Homo sapiens: one gene and its partners. The protein of the gene in region 3 purifies or fractionates together with the protein of the main gene of each other region. This does not show direct contact. Each region holds a gene or a part of one and is shown on either strand. Other genes may lie near its edges.

The links.
Region 1: the proteins of TRABD (region 3) and HSDL1 purify together in Homo sapiens (affinity purification with mass spectrometry; 2 studies listed by BioGRID and IntAct, with this or other methods). This does not show direct contact.
Region 2: the proteins of TRABD (region 3) and AKR7A3 purify together in Homo sapiens (affinity purification with mass spectrometry; one large-scale study listed by BioGRID and IntAct). This does not show direct contact.
Region 4: the proteins of TRABD (region 3) and C1orf54 purify together in Homo sapiens (co-immunoprecipitation; one large-scale study listed by IntAct). This does not show direct contact.
Region 5: the proteins of TRABD (region 3) and NME2 purify together in Homo sapiens (affinity purification with mass spectrometry, with the first as the bait; 3 studies listed by BioGRID). This does not show direct contact.

The regions. Positions count from the first base shown.
Region 1 is NC_000016.10:84,124,888-84,128,180, forward strand, and holds part of HSDL1 (inactive hydroxysteroid dehydrogenase-like protein 1), read right to left. Parts: intron 1-3,293.
Region 2 is NC_000001.11:19,285,971-19,289,994, reverse strand, and holds the start of AKR7A3 (aldo-keto reductase family 7 member A3), read left to right. Parts: upstream 1-1,224; 5' UTR 1,225-1,285; coding exon 1,286-1,499; intron 1,500-1,634; exon of another isoform or gene 1,635-1,935; intron 1,936-3,622; coding exon 3,623-3,810; intron 3,811-4,002; coding exon 4,003-4,024. UniProt on the Homo sapiens protein: Catalyzes the NADPH-dependent reduction of various carbonyl-containing compounds, including aldehydes, ketones, and toxic products from cellular metabolism or environmental exposure.
Region 3 is NC_000022.11:50,184,435-50,188,725, reverse strand, and holds the start of TRABD (traB domain-containing protein), read right to left. Parts: upstream 2,814-4,291; 5' UTR 2,750-2,813; exon of another isoform or gene 2,681-2,749; intron 1-2,680.
Region 4 is NC_000001.11:150,275,779-150,278,616, reverse strand, and holds part of C1orf54 (uncharacterized protein C1orf54 isoform b precursor), read right to left. Parts: coding exon 2,818-2,838; intron 2,096-2,817; coding exon 1,985-2,095; intron 1-1,984.
Region 5 is NC_000017.11:51,165,260-51,169,210, reverse strand, and holds the start of NME2 (nucleoside diphosphate kinase B), read right to left. Parts: upstream 2,801-3,951; 5' UTR 2,714-2,800; intron 2,711-2,713; exon of another isoform or gene 2,648-2,710; intron 2,490-2,647; exon of another isoform or gene 2,385-2,489; coding exon of another isoform or gene 2,381-2,384; coding exon 2,255-2,380; intron 970-2,254; coding exon 868-969; intron 1-867. Other genes in the region: NME1-NME2 protein, read right to left, coding at 868-969, 2,255-2,384. UniProt on the Homo sapiens protein: Major role in the synthesis of nucleoside triphosphates other than ATP. The ATP gamma phosphate is transferred to the NDP beta phosphate via a ping-pong mechanism, using a phosphorylated active-site intermediate.

The DNA of each region.
Region 1 (3,293 bases), on a different chromosome or scaffold from region 3:
TCACAACAAATACCCACCAATCACAACAAATACCCACCAATCACAACAAATACCCACCAATCAATCATAACAAATACCCACCAATCACAATACACACCAATCAAACAAATACCCACCAATCACAATACCCACCAATCAAACAAATACCCACCAATCACAACAAATACCCACCAAGCAATCACAACAAATACCCACCAATCAATCACAACAAATACCCACCAATCACAACAAATACCCACCAATCACAACAAATACCCACCAAGCAATCACAACAAATACCCACCAATCAATCACAACAAATACCCACCAATCACAACAAATACCCACCAATCACAACAAATACCCACCAATCACAACAAATACCCACCAATCAATCACAACAAATACCCACCAGTCACAACAAATACCCACCAATCACAACAAATACCCACCAATCAATCACAACAAATACCTACCAATCACAAACACCCACCAATCAATCACAATACCCACCAATCAATCACAACAAATACCCACCAATCACATTACCCACCAATCAATCACAATAAATACCCACCAATCACAATACCCACCAATCAATCACAATAAATACCCACCAATCGATCCCAACAAATACCCACCAATCACAATAAATACCCACCGATCAATCACAACAAATACCCACCAATCAATCACAACAAATACCCACCAGTCACAACAAATACCCACCAATCACATTAAATACAACAAAGGAAAAAGCCTCCAGGTACTACTGTACTGAATACCTACTTTTGCCTAAGATCTTACCCTAGATTCTACATGGAACAGAAACATGACCACCACCCACCTACCCGACTTTCTGTAATGAGGCTGGACTGTCCTGCATGTAAATACAATTCTGTCTTTACTTAACGTGATATGAACAAAATGTTCACTGGTTAAGAACCACAAAATCGGCTGGGCACGCTGGCTCATGCCTGTAATCCCAACACTTTGGGAGGCCGAGGCGGGTGGATCATGAGGTCAGGAGATCGAGACCATCCTGGCTAACAGGGTGAAACCCCATCTCTACTAAAAATACAAAAAATTAGCCAGGCGTGGTGGCGGGAGCCTGTAGTCCCAGCTACTCAGGAGGCAGAGGCAGGAAAATGGTGTGAACCGGGGAGGCGGAGCTTGCAGTGAGCCGAGATCGCGGCACTGCACTCCAGCCTGGGCAACAGAGCAAAACTCTGTCTCAAAAAAAAAAAAAAAAACACCACAAAATCATTATAGGAATAAATCAGTTGGAACAGACAGACGCATACGTGGTTAGTACTCTATGAGAAAACTGGGGCTTGAGGGGTAGTATGGAACAAAGTTCAACAAGAAAACAGGTCAGAAACACCAGTACCTTGGGATGGTATCTTGACCTATGATGGGGGTGCTCAGGGGACCAGGGAAGGGAGTCCTGCTGATGCTGCTCTGCTTCAGGGTCTCACTCAGGGCCTTTGTGCTAGCAGCAGACATAGGGCAATGTCTGAAAACAAATTTGGTCGTCACACTGGGAGTGGATGCTACTGGTATCTAGTGGGTGGAGGCCCAGGATGGTGTTCAACATCCTACAATACACAGGACGCTCCCCATGTCAAGGAATTACCTGCTCTCAATGCCAACAGTGCTGAGGTGGAGAAAGCCTACACTCCTCTAACAGATTTGTTCAGAACCGAATGAAAGTTCTAACACCGTGTATACGAAAGAGAAGAGAGACAGGCCCTTGGCAAGTACTGACATTCTAGTCTTGAACTGAACTGATGAATGATAATAGAGGTCATTCAATCCTCTTGTCAATAAATGGACACAGGTTACTCTCCAGGGAGGACACACCCACACCCACACACACACACACTCACGCACTTTGTGAACAAAATCACAGCAGCAAAAGCTATCAGAGAAATATGCCATGGACAAAACAGCAAAGGATGAATCAAATCTTTGATGTAAAATTGGAAATAAAAAATGATAGTGTTGAAAATAATTTGAGTAACATAAAATGAAAACAGAAAGTTTTAACAACTTTATACAGAAAACTACTCCAGGAATTAAATCAGCTTAACAGAATTTCTTGGCAGAAAAATACATTCTCAAGGAAAGTTTATCAATGTGAACAAAATTTAATTTTGAGTAAACTGTTCGTGTTTTATAAACACAGTCAAAACATCTACTGCACCTAAACCTGATCCTCATATCTTTATTTCTAAAAAAATTTTATGGTCAGTGACTTCTAAGACTACTTTTTAGGTTTCTCTGCTTTTCTCAAGTAATTAAAGGACCTGGAAACAACTACTTAAATAAAACTGTTTCTTCTTTTTTTTTTTTTTTTTTTTTTTTTGAGATAAGAGTCTAGCTCTGTCACCCAGGCTGGAGTACAGTGACGTGATCAGCTCACTGCCACCTCCGCATCCTGGGTTCAAGCGATTCTCATGCCTCAGACTCCCAGGTAGCTGGGACTACAGGCGTGCACCACCATGACCAGTTAATTTTTATATTTTTAGTAGAGATGGGGTTTCACCATGTTGGCAAGGCTGGTCTCGAACTCCTGACCTCAGGTGATCCACCAGCCTCAGCCTCCCAAACTGCTGGGATTAGAGATGTGAGCCACCACCACGCCCGACCAAAACTGCTTCTTATTAATCTCTCACTTTTCATAAAAGTCATAATTAACTGTTGATATACTTACATGTTTATTTGGTAGTGGCAAATCTAATACTCTTCATGCAAACAGTCCCAAAAATATCTGTTTGATAATTAAGAAAACTCCGAATATTAAAAAAAAAAAAAAATTCGGACCAGGTACAGTGACTCACACTGGTATTTTTTTTTTTTTTTTTTGTGAGACGGAGTCTTGCTCTGTCGTCCAGGCTGGAGTGCAGTGGTGTGATCTCGGCTCACTGCAAGCTCTGCCTCCCGGGTTCACGCCATTCTCCTGCCTCAGCCTCCTGAGTAGCTGGGACTACAGGCGCCCACCACCACGCCTAGCTAATTTTTTTGTATTTTTAATAGAGACGGGGTTTCACGGTGTTAGCCAGGATGGTCTCGATCTCCTGACCTCGTGATCCGCCCGCCTTGGCCTCCCAAAGTGCTGGGATTACAGGCTTGAGCCACCACGCCCTGCCAGCTCACGCTTGTAAATCCCAGCACTTTGGGAGGCCAAGGCGGGTGGATCACCTGAGATCAGGAGTTCGAGACCAGCCTGACCAACATGGTGAAACTCCATCTCTACTAAAAACACAAAAATTTGCTGGGCGTGGTGGCAGGCACCTGTAGTCCCAGCTACT
Region 2 (4,024 bases), on a different chromosome or scaffold from region 3:
CACAATTTGATAATTTTTAAAATTTTGTTGTAGCGATAAGATCTCCCTGTGTTGCCCAGGCTAGTCTCAAACTCCTGGACTTAAGCAATCCTCCCTTCTCAGGCTCCCAAAGTGCTAACATTACAGGTGTGGGCTAGTATGTCACCCACTGTGTGGGCCAGTATTCTTTGTTTTGCAATCTACTTTGTCTGATATTCACTTAGCCATTCCAACTTCTTAAAATTTAGTTTTGTCAGTGTATGTCTTTTCCCATCTTTTTGCTCTTAAACTATCTCTGCTTTTATATTTGAATAGCTTTCTGGTATTTACCATATAGTTTGGTTTTGCTTTTTTATCCATTCTAACAATCACTGCCTTTTACTTGTGAGCATTTACATCATTTATATTTATGTAATTATTGATATGATTGGGTTTAAATCAATTTTGCTATTGGTTTTTCATTTGTTCCATCTGTCTATTGGTCTTTTTTTTTCTTTTGTATTTGGAGACAGATTTGCCCTCTGTCACCCAGGGTGGAGTGCAGTAGAGCTATCACAGCTCACTGCCGCTGGGCACTGGTCCATTTTTCTATCTTTTTTTTTTTCTTTTGAGACAGGGCCTCCCTATGTTGCCCAGGCTGGGTTCAAACTCCTGGGCTCAAGTGATCCTCCTGCCTTGATCTCTCAAAGTGTTGGCATTACAGGCGTTAAGTCACCAGAGCCAGTCAGTTTTTTTTCACTTAGGTACAGAATTCAATGCCAACAGTTCTTTTCTTTCAACACTTTAACCATGTCACTCCATGGGGACGCTGTCTTGAGCCTTTGGTAAGCCTCATTCTCCAGGACCACACGGCAGGCGCGACAGCCCTAGGTCCACCCCACCCCGTAAGCGCTCCCTCCGGGAGGAGACAGAAACCCAGGACAGCTCCGGGGCAAGGCCGAGGAAGGAGGGACGACGGGGCAGGGAGGCCCGAAGAGTCCCCGCCTTTTGGGATAGTCGCCACCCTTGGACCCCCTCACCCTTGGGGACGTTGAGGAGTGTTAAAATCTCCAAGACGCGAGTCACCGGTACGAAGCCACAGCCATTTCGCTGCTTGCTCGGTGCAAGTGCAGAAGGTCCTAGTAGCCGAGCGTGGAGTCGAGCTCGTGGGCGGCGTCGGGCACCTTCGGCCGCGCCCTCAGCTGCACCCGCCGGTGGGCGGGGCCCGAGCCCGTCTCTAAAGCCACGAGGCCGCCCGCTCCGAGCCTGGTGCTTCCGACCGCTGCGCGCGGCTCCTGGGCTGTCACAGTCTCCCGTTGCCGCCGTCATGTCCCGGCAGCTGTCGCGGGCCCGGCCAGCCACGGTGCTGGGCGCCATGGAGATGGGGCGCCGCATGGACGCGCCCACCAGCGCCGCAGTCACGCGCGCCTTCCTGGAGCGCGGCCACACCGAGATAGACACGGCCTTCGTGTACAGCGAGGGCCAGTCCGAGACCATCCTTGGCGGCCTGGGGCTCCGGCTGGGCGGCAGCGACTGCAGAGGTAACAGTGGCCCCTGATCCTCCCCCTGCACGGTGCAGAGCTGAGCCTGTCCACAGCCGTGTACCGCCCCGCTCTCCCTGGCCCCGGGGCAGCACCCAAAGTTTTGTCCCCCCCACCGCCCCCACCCCTGTTCACCTCGCAGCCTTGGGAACACCAGGCTCCTTAGGCACGTCTAGCTCCGGACAACTTTTCTCTCGTCTTCTCTTCTGTTCGTCTCTCTTCTCTTCCGGGAGGTAGCCAGCACCCTCACTGACGCCTGGATGACTTGGTCTTGCCTGGAATGACTTGGCTAGCCCCTCTCTGGAGCACAAAAAACACTGGGATCTGGCATTGTGCAGCTCCTGTCCCCACCTGTGCCCTCCAGGTGCCCTTGACGGGCCTGATCTGCAGAAATTCTGTTCTTACCGCCTGGCACTCCCTGGCACAGTCCAAAATCAGAGTTTGGACCCAGCACACTATCTGCTTCCTCCTTTGCACATGCCAGCCTGCTCGGGGCCCCGGACTTTGCTCTGAGTACCTTGTGGTACTCACAAGGGCACCTCACAAGGGTGGCAGTGCCCGGAAGCCTTGGCAGCTCCCTCAGGGGGATGAGGGATTGGGGTGGTACAGAGTCTCACTGCCCTCTCTGTGGGAGGCTCTGTCGGAGGCTATTGGAGAGAAATGGACACTAACCCACTCCAGGAAGCTCCAGTTCTAGAGATGGCTGGGGAGCCCAGAGTGACCCCTTCCTGGGAGGGACCCCGTGAAGAAAGAATGGATAGGAGTTTGCCAGGAAGAGTACAAGGGGCAAGGGCGTCAGGGCAGTGGGCATGGGTGTGGAAAGGCAAATGTGTTTTGGCAATGCCGCGGGTGCTGGAGGAGGCAGGTGTGGCCGGAGGGGAGGATGTGTGTATAGGGGCAGGAGGAGCCGCCCTCAGTCTGATGCCATTTGCAGTGCTTAGGCCGATGCCTGGCAGGCACATAGTGAGGGCTGGGAAATGTTAGCTGTTTGTTTGTTCTTAGTATTAGCACCATTTGCCTCCTTCCACTGAGTGTCTGAGTGGAGTCTTATTTCTCCTCTGATTCACCACATGGTAGATCCAGAACGAACCTGGCCTGTGCGTGCATCCCAGTGCCACGCTCTTTCTAGATCACCCGGCTGCCACTCAGTGAGAGCTCTAACCATATTTCTGATTTTTTTTTTTTTTTTGAGACAGGGTCTTGCTTTTTTGCCCAGGCTGGAGTGGAGTGGTGCGATAGGGCTCATTGCAGCTTTGACCTCTCAGGGCTCAAGCCATCCTCCCACCTCAGTCTCCTGAGTAGCTGGGACTACTACAGTAGCACCACACCCGGCTAATTTTTTGTATTATTCATTGAAACTGGAGTCTCACTTTGTTGCCCAGGCTGGTCTTAAACCCCTGAGCTCAAGTGATCCTCCTGCTCTGGCCTCCCAAAGTGCTGAGATTACAGGTGTGAGCCACCACAGATCTGTACCCTCTGCCTGGCCCTTATTTCTGATTTTTTTTTCTTTCCTTTTTTAATCCTTCTTTGTCTTCTGTCTGAGTCCAAGGTTGGCTGGCGAAAGTCCTCAGATCTGATCTGAAGTTAAATTCAATTGAGAAGCAGAGGGGTGGTGGTGGAATGGAAAAATTCCATATGAATAGTTCCTCAAACCTGCTCTTTGCTAGGCCTCAAGGGCTCCAGTGACTGCCCTCCTGCCAGCCTAGGTGACTTTCTAAGTGTGAAAAGTGGGAAGAGGACTCTCCACTCACCTGTTAGTCCAGTTCACTAGGAACTAAGATTCTTTTTTTTTGTTGTTTGTTTTGTTTGTTTGTTTGTTTTTTGAGAAGTCTCACTCTGTGAGACATTGTGCTGTGGCACAATCTCGGCTCACTGCAACCTCCGCCTCCCGGGTTCAAGCAATTCTCCTGCCTCAGACTCCGGACTAGCTGGGGACTACAGGCGGGCTCCACTATGCCCAGCTAATTTTTGTGTTTTTATTAGAGATGGGGTTTCACCATGTTGGTCCAGCTGGTCTTGAACTCCTGACCTTCTGATTTGCCTGCCTCAGTCTCCCAAAGTGCTGGGATTACAGGCATGAGCCACGGCGCCTGGCCCTGAATTTCATTTCTCTTTCCTCTCAGTGAAAATTGATACCAAGGCCATTCCACTGTTTGGGAACTCCCTGAAGCCTGACAGTCTCCGGTTCCAGCTGGAGACGTCACTGAAGCGGCTGCAGTGTCCCCGAGTGGACCTCTTCTACCTGCATATGCCAGACCACAGCACCCCGGTGGAAGAGACACTGCGTGCCTGCCACCAGCTGCACCAGGAGGTGAGGGGACCCCTGAGCTCTGGGAGGTGGTCCACTGCTGCTCTCCTTATCCTGATCCTAATGGTGAGAGCAGAGGCACCAGGGCTGTTCCAGGGTGGAGCAGGGAACAGCCCAACTCCCAGGGGCCCCACCCTGGCCTCCCTTTCCTGGTCTGGGCTGCACTATGTTCTGACTGGAGCCTCACCTGAGCAGGGCAAGTTCGTGGAGCTTGGCC
Region 3 (4,291 bases):
AGACTGAACTGTGTCCCCCAAAACCCACAGGTTAGAGCCCTAACTCCCACTATGAAGGTATTAGAAGGCAGGGCCTCCAGGAGGTGATCAGGTTCGGATGAGGTCATGAGTGCATAGCCCCCATGACGGGGTTAGTACTCCTGGAAGAGACGCCACGCAGCTCTTGCTCCCCCGGGTAAGGACGCCGCGGGGGCCCGTCTACAAGCCAGGAGGCTGCATGGCAACCAGGGACCAGCACCTTTGATCTGGGATGTCCGGCCCCTAGAACTCTGAGAAAATAAATTTCTGTTAAGTTTTTTCCCAGCACCAGTGAGGCATGGTGGGAGGAGCCTACTCGCTCACAGCCCCAGCTACTCAGGAGAGGCTGAGGTAGGAGAATTGTCTGAGGTCTGGAGTTTAAGACCAGTCTGGGCAACTTAGCGAGACCTCATTTTTTTTTTATTTGAGACGGAGTGTCACTCTGTCGCCCAGGCTGGAGTGCGGTGGCGTGATCTTGGCTCACTGCAACCTCCCCCACCCTGAGGTCCAAGCGATTCTCCTGCCTCAGCCTCCCGAGTAGCTGGGATTACAGGCGTGCGCCACCACCCCCAGCTAATTTTTGTATTTTTAGTAGAGATGGGGTTTCACCATCTTGGCCAGGCTGGTGTTGAACTCCTGACCTTGTGATCCACCTGCCTCGGCCTCCCAAAGTGCTGGGGTTACAGGTGTGAGCCACTGCGCCAGGCCAAGACCTCATTTTTGTTTTTGAGACAGAGTCACACTCTGTTGCCCACGCTGGAGTGCAGTGGCATGATCTCGGCTCACTGCAAGCTCTGCCTCCCGGGTTCACGCCATTCTCCTGCCTCAGCCTCCCGAGTAGCTGGGACTACAGGCGCCTGCCACTACACCCAGCTAATTTTTTGTATTTTTTAGTAGAGACGGGGTTTCACCGTGTTAGCCAGGAAGGTCTCCATCTCCTGACCTCGTGATCTGCCCGCCTCGGCCTCCCAAAGTGCTGGGATTACAGGCGTGAACCACCACACCCAGCCCAGCCTGCTGTTTTTTAAAGTTTCCTGGTCTGTGATGCTTTGTTACAGCAGCTAGAGCTAAGACACCCATCTTATCCCCTTCACCCCACTAGAAACTGCCTCCCAGACTGCAGCCTAGCTTCCTAGTGCAGACCAAAAACTGGCTAGCACCAAATGCAGTTACCAGAAAAACCCCCATCTCTCAACCAACCCACTAGACCGGCTCAGAAAGCCCAGGTTCCAAACTGGTCAGACCTGGGGGTTGCAGAAATGACAAACTTGGAGGGACCAGGGTGTGGCCCAGAGCTTTGACCTCCCCTGCTTCCTGTTTCTGATGCCTGGCACCTTTGGCCACAGGAAACCCCTCCCGGCTTTGGCGGGACCGCTTCACGCAGGTGTGGCAGAGCTGGGAGACGGGAAACACACCTGAGCCAGAGCCCGAGGCCTCCTTGCCAGCACACCTGGCAGCCCCCAACCTCCCAGGACCTGGTCACAGTCAATGCAGAGCCCCCACACTGACCACCATGCAGGGGGCCCCACAGGCTCCTGCCACCCACCCACCCTGCCAGGCCCCCTCCTCGGACCCCACAGCATCAGGGCCTCCGGCGAGGCTGGCCAGCATCCCCACCAGTCACACTGCAAGGGCGGCGGCAGCAAGCGGGGAGCAGAGACACACAGCGCAGTGAGCCTGGCGGCCTGCACGGCCTCTTCAGGGACCTGAAAGCTAGGAGGCTTCCATCTGGAGGCTACCGAGGCTGCGGGAGTCCCCGCAGGGAGCTTAGCACCTCCACAAGTTCCTGGTTGTTTCTGGGACGCTAGTGCCCAGACAGCTCCCACTCCATCTTTCTTGTAAGAGTTTTGACAAAGACACACGGCAGCTTCATGATAGCTCAGTTAAAAAGACCTTTTAAGTTTGGGCTGCGCACAGCGGGGGACGATCTGGCGTCCACTTCGCCCATATGGGAACCCCGCTCTGCTCCAATTGAAGGGCAAAGGCACCTACAGAAGAGCGAAGCCCCAGGTTTCAGCGGGGCCGGAGGGGACAACGGGGGTCCGGGGCCTCCCGCTCGGCCTCCCCCAGCACCCCCAGAGACCCGCAGGCCTGGGCCGCCTTCCTCCACTCTCACCTCGGCCGGCTCCACCGCAGGCGGCAGGCGGGGGTGGCTGGGGCCCTCCCGACCCGCGAGGACCCTGGGACTCGAGGTCCGACCCGCGCCTTCCCGCGAGGCCGCCGCTGACCCTCCCCGCCCCAGCCCTGGGGGGCTCCGCTCCTCGGCAGCGCCGCTCCCGGCAGCGGTGGCAGGGGACGCGCGGGGCCTGCTCCCGCCCCAAACCTGACCCGGGCCTGACCCCCACGACCTGCTCCCCCGGCTCCAAAACCTGACCCGGGCCTGGCCCCCCCAACGACCTGCCACCCCGGCCCCCAAACCTGACCCGGGCCCGGCCCCCAACGACCCTGGTCTACCAGCCCCAAACCCTGAATCTGACCCTGGCCTGACCCCCACGACCTGCTCCCCCGGCCCCAAAACCTGAACCTGATCCGGGCCTGACCCCCACGACCTGCTACCCCGGCCCCAAAACCTGACCCGGGCCTGACCCCCCCCGCCCCCGGCCCCCACCCCCCGACTCGGGCTCGCTCCCCCCGCCCCCCACAGTCACCCCGCGGCCCTGACCCGGGCCCGCCCCCCGCTCGGTGCTGGGCCCCGTCCTCACGCACGCGCCGTCCGCGCCGCGCGGCGTACCGAGGCGAGGCAGCGGCGCTCCTCAGCCGGCCTCCATGCGGCGCGGGCCCTCAACGGACGGGGCGGGCTGGGGCCGCGGGGCGGGGCGGGGCGGACGGGCCGAGGGCGCCGGCGGCCGCGTGGCATGCCGGGAAGTGTAGTCCCACGCGCCTCCTGCTTGGCCCCGGCCCGCAACTTCGGACTACACTTCCCAGGGGGTAGCGCGCGGGGCCCCCGCCCCCCCCCCCCCCCCCGGCGCTCCCGGGTCCTAAGGAACATCGGCGCGCACTCAGGAGGGAGGGTTCGAGTCCCGCCGCGGTCACGGCCTTGCGAGGCGCGCCCACGTTCTCTGGTCGCAGCTCCCAAGCTGTGAAATGGGGACAATGCTCGCACGGCGTCCACAGGATGGTTTTCAGTCGAATGATATTGAAATGTAACTGTTCTGTGAGCCGTCAGTCCCGCACGAAAGGGACAGCCGATAGTGGGACGCGAGGAGCCGAGAACACGGGATCAGGGAACGCGCTGCCATGGCCTCGGCCTGGCCCCCTTCCCTCTGGGGATCGGCCTAGTCCGTCCTCCGGGGGTCGGCCCAGAGCGGTCCCCGACCCGGGACTCATGCCTCAGCGGGACCTCGGCCTTGCCGCAGGTTGGGGCACCCCGGGAAGGTCGGGCCCCAGGGGCCCCGCGGCCAGCCTAGCGGACGGAGAACCGGGACCAGGTGGGAGTCTTAGGGCGGGCCGACCCCCGGCCTCACGGACCCGGACGCTCAGTCACTTCCGATCGTCCGGAGGCCTCCAGGGGGACCCGGCTGGCCGCAGCCACGCCGACGCTAGACTCTCGCTGTGCGTGTTCGGCCCCGAGGGCAGGGGGAGACGGCCAGGCCCCACCCGCCGCGCCCGTCCTGCCCGGGCGCCCGGCCCCCTCGCTGTACCCAGCCTCTACCGGGGCGGCCGGGACCCGGCGGCCAAGTTGCTGCGCGCTGCGGGCACCGGCGCGGACGGGGGCCCGGGCGCTTCGCCGCCGCATGCAGACGACTCGCTGCCCGCAAGCTGCTGCGCCGTCCGCCTGCCCCGCTCTCCTGCAATGGTCCGGCCGCGCATCCCGGGCCCACGACTTCCTTCCTCCTCCACGACCCCGGGTTCTTGGCTGACCTGGCGCTGGCGCTGGGCTTAGTGCAGGCGTGGGCCTGGCAATGGTTTGCCTGCGGGCTGCATGCGCGGACCCCACAGCCAGCTCCCCGAAGCTCTGCGCCCACCTCTACGGCCCTGCCCCAGCCAAAGGATCAGGTTCTTGGAGCGGGGCCTGCCCTGGGGCCAGGACTCCAGTCACCGGGGGAGGGCTGCTGTGTCTTCCTGCCAGGCACTGATGAGTTAGTTGGGGAAAGGGGCCAGGTGGGGCCAGCTGGGGAACCATTTAGAAGAGGGAGGAGGGCGCACCTCTCTACTCGAGTGCCCTAGGACTAGCTCCTCTCTGGAGCCACGGGGAGGACCTCAGTGAGGGCTGCCCCACGCAGGAACCTTCAGCGAGCCTGGAAGGCTGACCCAGCAGGCCTGGGGTTGGGGG
Region 4 (2,838 bases), on a different chromosome or scaffold from region 3:
CAGTCAAATCCTTCTCCATTCCATTCATTAATTTCTCTTCCTCCCACTCACTACAGGCACAGTCACTGGCCTTCTGAGCTTGTGTGTACTGGCTCTGTTGAGCTCATTTACTTTCATATCTGTGACTTTGCACTTAGAACTCTAGCCCTGATCTAGTTCAGTGACCTTTAGGACACCCTCATAGGGCTGTCACCATAAACTCAGCTTGGCCATTACCAAATTAATAACTTCTGTCCTAAACCACTCTGGCCTCCCATAGTTCCCACTTTGGTCAACCATTTTCCCAGACATCCATGTTTAAAACCCATGAGTTATTTTAACTCACTCCTCATTTATACTTCATATAAAATTATCACTCAAGCAAGGTATTTTCTTCATAATATTTATTTTTCTCCTCTCCATTCATAATGCCAGAGTACAGATTGTTTCTGGAACAACGCAAATCTCATGAGTTGCTTTCCACTAAATTATTTACATCCTGCATACAACCTGAAGAGTGGTTTTTCTTTTTCTTTTTTTGAGATGGAGTTTCACTCTTGTTTCCCAGGCTGGAGTGCAATAGCGCGATTTCGGCTCACTGCAACCTCCGCCTCCCAGGTTCAAGCGATTCTCCTGCCTCAGCCTCCCAGGTAGCTGGGATTACAGGCATGTGCCACCACACCCAGCTAATTCTGTATTTTTACTATAGACAGGGTTTCTCCATGTTGGTCAGGCTGGTCTCGAACTCCCGACTTCAGGTGATCAGCTCACTTCAGCCTCCCAAAGTGCTGAGATTACAGTCGTGAGCCACCACACCTGGCCGGTTTTTCTAAAATATCACTTTTCATCGTGTTTTTACCATAATGAAGAACTTACTAGGCTCCTTGTTGATTATGAGTCCAGACTTCAGCCTGACACCTGAGACTCTCTGAAATTTGCCCCTATGTTGCCACATGTGAAATTACTAAGCAAGTATTAGGAGCCTTGTAAATTTTATATTTTTCTTAATTCCCACTGTTCCCTTCCATATACCCTCTCCTTCAATCATACCCTATTTGCTAAACATATTATGCTTGTTCTATTCCCCCCTCCTGTGCAGCTCTTTCACTCTTTTTTTTTTTTTTTTTTTTTTTTTAGTATAGAGTCTCACTCTGTCGCCCAGGCTGGAGTAGAGTGGCGTGATCTCGGCTCACTGCAACCTCTGCCTCCCGGGTTCAAGTGATTCTCATGCCTCAGCTTCCCAAGTAGCTGGGATTACAGGCACGCACCACCACGCCTGGCTAACTTTTGTATTTTTAGTAGAGATGGGGTTTCCACCATGTTGGCCATTGAACTAGCCTTGAACTGCTGACCTCAAGTGATCCGACCACCTTGGCCTCCCCAAAGTGCTGGGATTACAGGCATAAGCCGCCATACCTGGCCTCTTTCACTCTTGGAATAACTATTCTTCCTCCTAATTGCTTCTGTCCTTCCATAACTACCCACCAATCAAAAGCTCATCTATTCTTCAGGGTGTATCTCAAGCACAAATGCCTCTTGAAAGCTTTTCAGACAACTCTAGCCTGTACTAATCTCTCTTCTTACATTGGCTAAAGCACTGCCAGTATCTTCTGCTTTCAAATTTATATATAATTTAACATCATAACATACCTTTTCATTTTGTTCTAAGTGTTTCGTAAACTTGAATTTTATAAATCCTTGAGGACAGTAACATAGATTTCTTTTTTATCAGCATCAGTTACCTTAGCAGCCTTAGGCATAGATTACATACCTATTGAATACTACTGAACTGAAATTTAACTGTACCATATCTTCCCAGTGTTCTGTAAACAGGGTTAGTATTAAATCTTAGTGAAACATGGCCAAGTTGAGATGAATACCTGCAATGAAGTACTAATTATTTGGTTCTCCCATCCACCAAAGCCTGGTATTCCAGCCCTCTATGTATTCCACGTCACTAGGGATGTCCTGTCTCCCCCCAGCCCCCAATCCCCAATCAACTCACAGGTTCCGTTGTTACTGGTTTCACAGTTACAGGCTTCGGATGGTCTGCACGTGCTGTTTCAAGACTAATGGTAGTCTCTATTGCTTCTGTTATGTCCTTATCCAACCTGTTCTACCCTCAGTAGGATTTGGGAAACACAGAGTTATCAGTTTTTCCATCCAACATCTTCATAGATTCTCTACTTAAAGTTCTCCCCTTCACCACCTCCACCCAGCCCAAAGACTTAAGCTCAGGGATTCCCCCCTACCCTATGCTTGCATAGATTTGTACCCATCTCATTCAAAAGTCCCTTGATGCCCCTCCTCAGTGTCTTAGCAAACTTACTGAGGACAATTTATAAAGTTCTGGCTTTTTTCTCCTCCCCAGATAGGTTAACAAATCTGTTTTGGGCCTACTACTTAGTTTCTCCTCATCAAACTCATTTTTATTCTTGTTAATCAGATACATTTCAACATTGCCCAGTTTCTTTTCTTTTCTTTTTTCTTTTTTTTTTGTAGATGAAGTCTGGATCTGTCACCCAGGCTGGAGTGCAGTGGAACGATCTTGGCTCACTGCGTCCTCCATCTCCCGGATTCAAGTGATTCTCCTACCTCAGCCTTCTGAGTAGCTGGGATTATAGGCATATGCTACCATGTCCAACTAATGTTTTTGTATTTTTAGTAGAGACGGGGTTTCACCATTTTGGCCAGGCTGGTCTCAAACTCTTGACCTCAAATGATCCACTCGCCTTGGCCTCCCAAAGTGCTGGGATTATAGGCATGAGCCACTGCGCCCGGCCAGTTTCTTTTTAATTGTTACTTATCCTAACCCTTTTAGATGTAGAGTTCACTCACCAGCCTGTCCTCTGACTCAAA
Region 5 (3,951 bases), on a different chromosome or scaffold from region 3:
TCGGCCTCCCAAAGTGCTGGGATTACAGGTGTGAGCCACCTCGCCCAGCCACTCTCTCCTCATATTCTCTCCACTCCCAAATGGACATTAGCACCATCCAGAAGAAACTGCTTCTAGTATAGGATTGAGAACTTCTTACATCCTTACCTTTGAATTTTTCATGAGAAAATAGGATAAAGTTTTTTAATCTAGGAAACATTAAGGTCTAAAACACTTGTCAAACAGAAGAAATTGAGTATTATTTTTTTTTGAGATGGAGTCTTGCTGTCGCCCAGGCTGGAGTGCAGTGGCATGATCTCGGCTCACTGCAACCTCCGCCTCCCAAGTTCAAGCGATTCTCGTGCTTCAGCCCCCTGAGTAACTGGGATTAACTCCTGGCCTCAGGTGATCCACCCGCCTCAGCCTTCCAAAGCGCTGGGATTACAGGCATGAGCCACCAAGCCTGGCCCGAAAATTTACCACTCTTGCAGGCAGTGAGATTCTATTTAACCATAGAGACATGTACCTGAAAAAGTCCTTCCCATATCTTTTTTCTTTGTCGAGACAGAGTCTCGCTCTGTTGCCCAGGCTGGAGTGCAGTGGCACGATCTCGGCTCACTGCAACCTCCGCCTCCCAGGTTCAAGCAATTCTCCTACCTCAGCCTCCCAAGTAGCTGAGATTACAGCCGTGCACCACCACACCCAGCTAACATCCTTCCCATTTCTAAGGTCTGATTTGCTTTCTCCTCCCAAGCTCCTAGTTGCTCAGTTAAGTAACTTCAGCAGGTTCCATTCATAAAATAAAATTTAGATTAGCTGAGGGAGATGTCTAACAAAGAACACTGAGCACTTTTTCCTCATTTTCTCTCATTCCCCACGAGCACTCACCATGGCCACAACCGGCCCTGAGTTCATGTACTTCACCAGCCCAGGGAAGAATGGTCGGTCTTTCAGGTCAATGTAGTGCTGCTTCAGGTGTTCTTCAGAGGCCTGGCATTGGAGAGGAGGCACCAGTTAGGAGCTAAGCTGGAAAGACTCCAACCCATCCTCTGAACCTCCCATTAGCAAGTCCGGTTTTATATTCTAGCCCACGTTCCTAAGTGGTGTGTGGAAATATATATATATATACACACATATACACACACATAAATATTTTTTAAATCCCATCCAAACCATGAAACTAATGCCATTTTAACAGAAAGACTGTTCTTTTTTTGGTGTGTTGTTTTGGTTTGTTTTAGGAGACAGGGTCTCACTATCATCACCCAGGCTGGAATGCAGTGGCACAATGATGGCTCACTGCAGCCTCAACTTCCAGGGCTCAAGTGATTTTCCTACCTCAGCCTCCCAAGTAGCTGGAACTACAGATGCACTCAACCATGCCCAATTAATTTTTATTTATTTATTTATTTATTTGTAGAGACAGGGGCTTGCTATGTGGCTCAGGCTGATCTCCAACTCCTGGGCTCCACCCACCTCGGCCTCCCAAATTGCTGGGATTATAGGCGTGAGCCCCGCGCCTGGCCAAGACTGTTCTAATCGTAAAGACACCCTCATACCGTCAATGACATTAGGGGTTTTGTAAGCCTAAAAAGTAGGTGGTTTGAGGATCTAGATTTAGGGAATTAAATTTTGGCTGCAACTGAAGTACATATGTCAGGTCATCTGCCTGGCAGAGGTCATGTTAAACTCCCCTGGGCTACTCACAATGCCCTTTTAAATATTTCAGATAATAACTGAGAACATTCTCTTCACCGATGAGCCTGGTTGAATTTCAGTACTTAGATTCTTACCCGTAAGTGTAGGGATTCAGATCTGTGCCCCAAATTTAATGTGGAAAATACACTCACTACCCTATGCTAAAGGAGGAGCACCGCACTGGAACTCGGAGTTTCAGACTAAAGCAAAGGAGATTCCAAGCCTCCATTCTGTGCCTAGGTGGACCCGAGTGGGCAGGCGCAGGGGGTCTGGGGCCCGGGGTTTTTCCGCTCCCTGCTGCCCCCCTGCGGCGGGTGGGCAGGTAGCGGCCCGCGGGAAGGAACCCAAACCCGGAGGGCGAGTCACGCTACCAGCGCTTCACCTTCCCAAGGGCGTCTGTCCCCACCACCCCGGGAAAGGGTCGGCGGGCCCAAGCCGCCGTGGGCGGGGGCAGAGGGCAAAGGGATTTCGCGGCAGCGAAATGAACTCGGAAAGCAGACGCGGACAAACCGCCGCCGGGAGGGAAAAACACCCGCGAGCCGGCTGCAGCGGGGAAGGGGAGACGGGGGCGAGTTACCCGGAGGAACTTCATGGCCACGAGGCGGAATCCCTTCTGCTCGAAGCGCTTGATGATCTCGCCCACCAGGCCGCGCTGCACGCCGTCCGGCTTGATGGCGATGAAGGTGCGCTCCAGGTTGGCCATGGTCCTGCGGGGCGAGAGGTGCGGTCAGGGCCCGGGCGCAGGCTCTGGCGGGGCCCGCGGAGGCCACGTGGGCGCCGCCGGTCCCTCCTCCCCCACCACGCGCGGCCGCGGGGACACGTGGCTTCCCGGCCGCTTCCGCCCCGCGCAGGGCCGGCGTCCCTCTGCGGAGCCCGAAGGCCCGCGGGGCGCAAGCTGCAAGGGAATCTCCCGCTCCGACGCCGCGCGGGACCTGCGGGAAATCGGGGGGCGCCCACAGACCGGGCCCACCTGCGGCAGCGCAAGCGGAAGAGGGAACGGGAGGAGTCGCCAGGGGATGCGCCCCCACCGCCTTACCGGGAAGCTGGAGGGGCCGGGCGGCGGCGCTGCGCTGGGAGAGCAGAGAGCTGGTGCGACCACCACACCCGGGAGCCGGCGGCGGAGGAGGGGCGCAGGGCGGAGCGCGGGGTGGCCACACCCCGGAGGGCCCAGCCGCCCAACCCGCAGGAACGCCCCACCCGCCCGGCCCGACGCGGCCGGAGAACAGTGTCCACGCCCAGCCGGGGCGCGCCCTCGCCAGGCAGAGATCGAGACGGATCCAGAGACAGGAAGTGATTCCTTCTCCACCTGGACGTCCTATGAGTTCAACTACGCACGTCCCAAATCCCACTCCTCACCTCTCAGTACTTCCCGTGACCCCAAAAGCTCCTACACACACACACACACACACACACACACAGAACCTGCTCCTGTGCTCGAGTTCTCTACCCCGGTCAAGGCCATCTGCTGCTTTCACCATCCGCCCGAGCACCGGCATTAACCTTGACTTGGCTCTCCCTCCCCGTCGTGCACCCACGGTCCTTATCCTCCCTACCTCTGAAATCCAGCCTTCCCTCCCCTCTGCTTGAGCCCTGGTTAAGCCTCGGCCTCCCAAGGGGCCTCGATCTCACCTCTCCGCGCAAACCGGGAGCTTTGCTCAGCACCTCAAACGGCCATCTGGTCCTGCCTCTGCCCTGCCTTGATGACTCCCCCGCCTACAGGATGGCGTTCAGACTCCTTAGCGGGATGCTCTTCTCGCAGGATGCCCTGCTCCCTGGCTGCCGCCTCCCCACCTACATTTCCAGCCCCAATCAGCCGCCCCACTCCCACCCTGACATGGGGATCCCTGCCCACCTGGCACTAAAGTGCGGTCGAGTTTTCCAGTTCACCCTGAGGTGCGCCCCTGGACCCTGAGGAAAGTCTAGACCCTGTCATAGAGATTAGGCCTGTCATCGACCTGTAGACACTTCCTACTTGCAGTGTCCCTGGCAAACAAGCTCCCTTTGGTGATGCCCAGCTTCCCTGGGGCGGTCACAAGCCCCTCCTCTCGGCGCCTGCAGCACTGACTGACAGCCGCACAGCAGTGGTACTGCCCTGAGATGGTGAGAGCCCGCTTGCTTCCCCTCAGGACTCTGAGCTGACCACAGCAATCATGCCATCACCCGAGTGCCCCTAGCACTGCGCTGATCACCTGTCACTGGCCAGATGGATGACAATCTGGCCTCTGTTATACCTTATCGGCTTTCCAAACTTCTAGTTACAGAGCATTAGCCCAC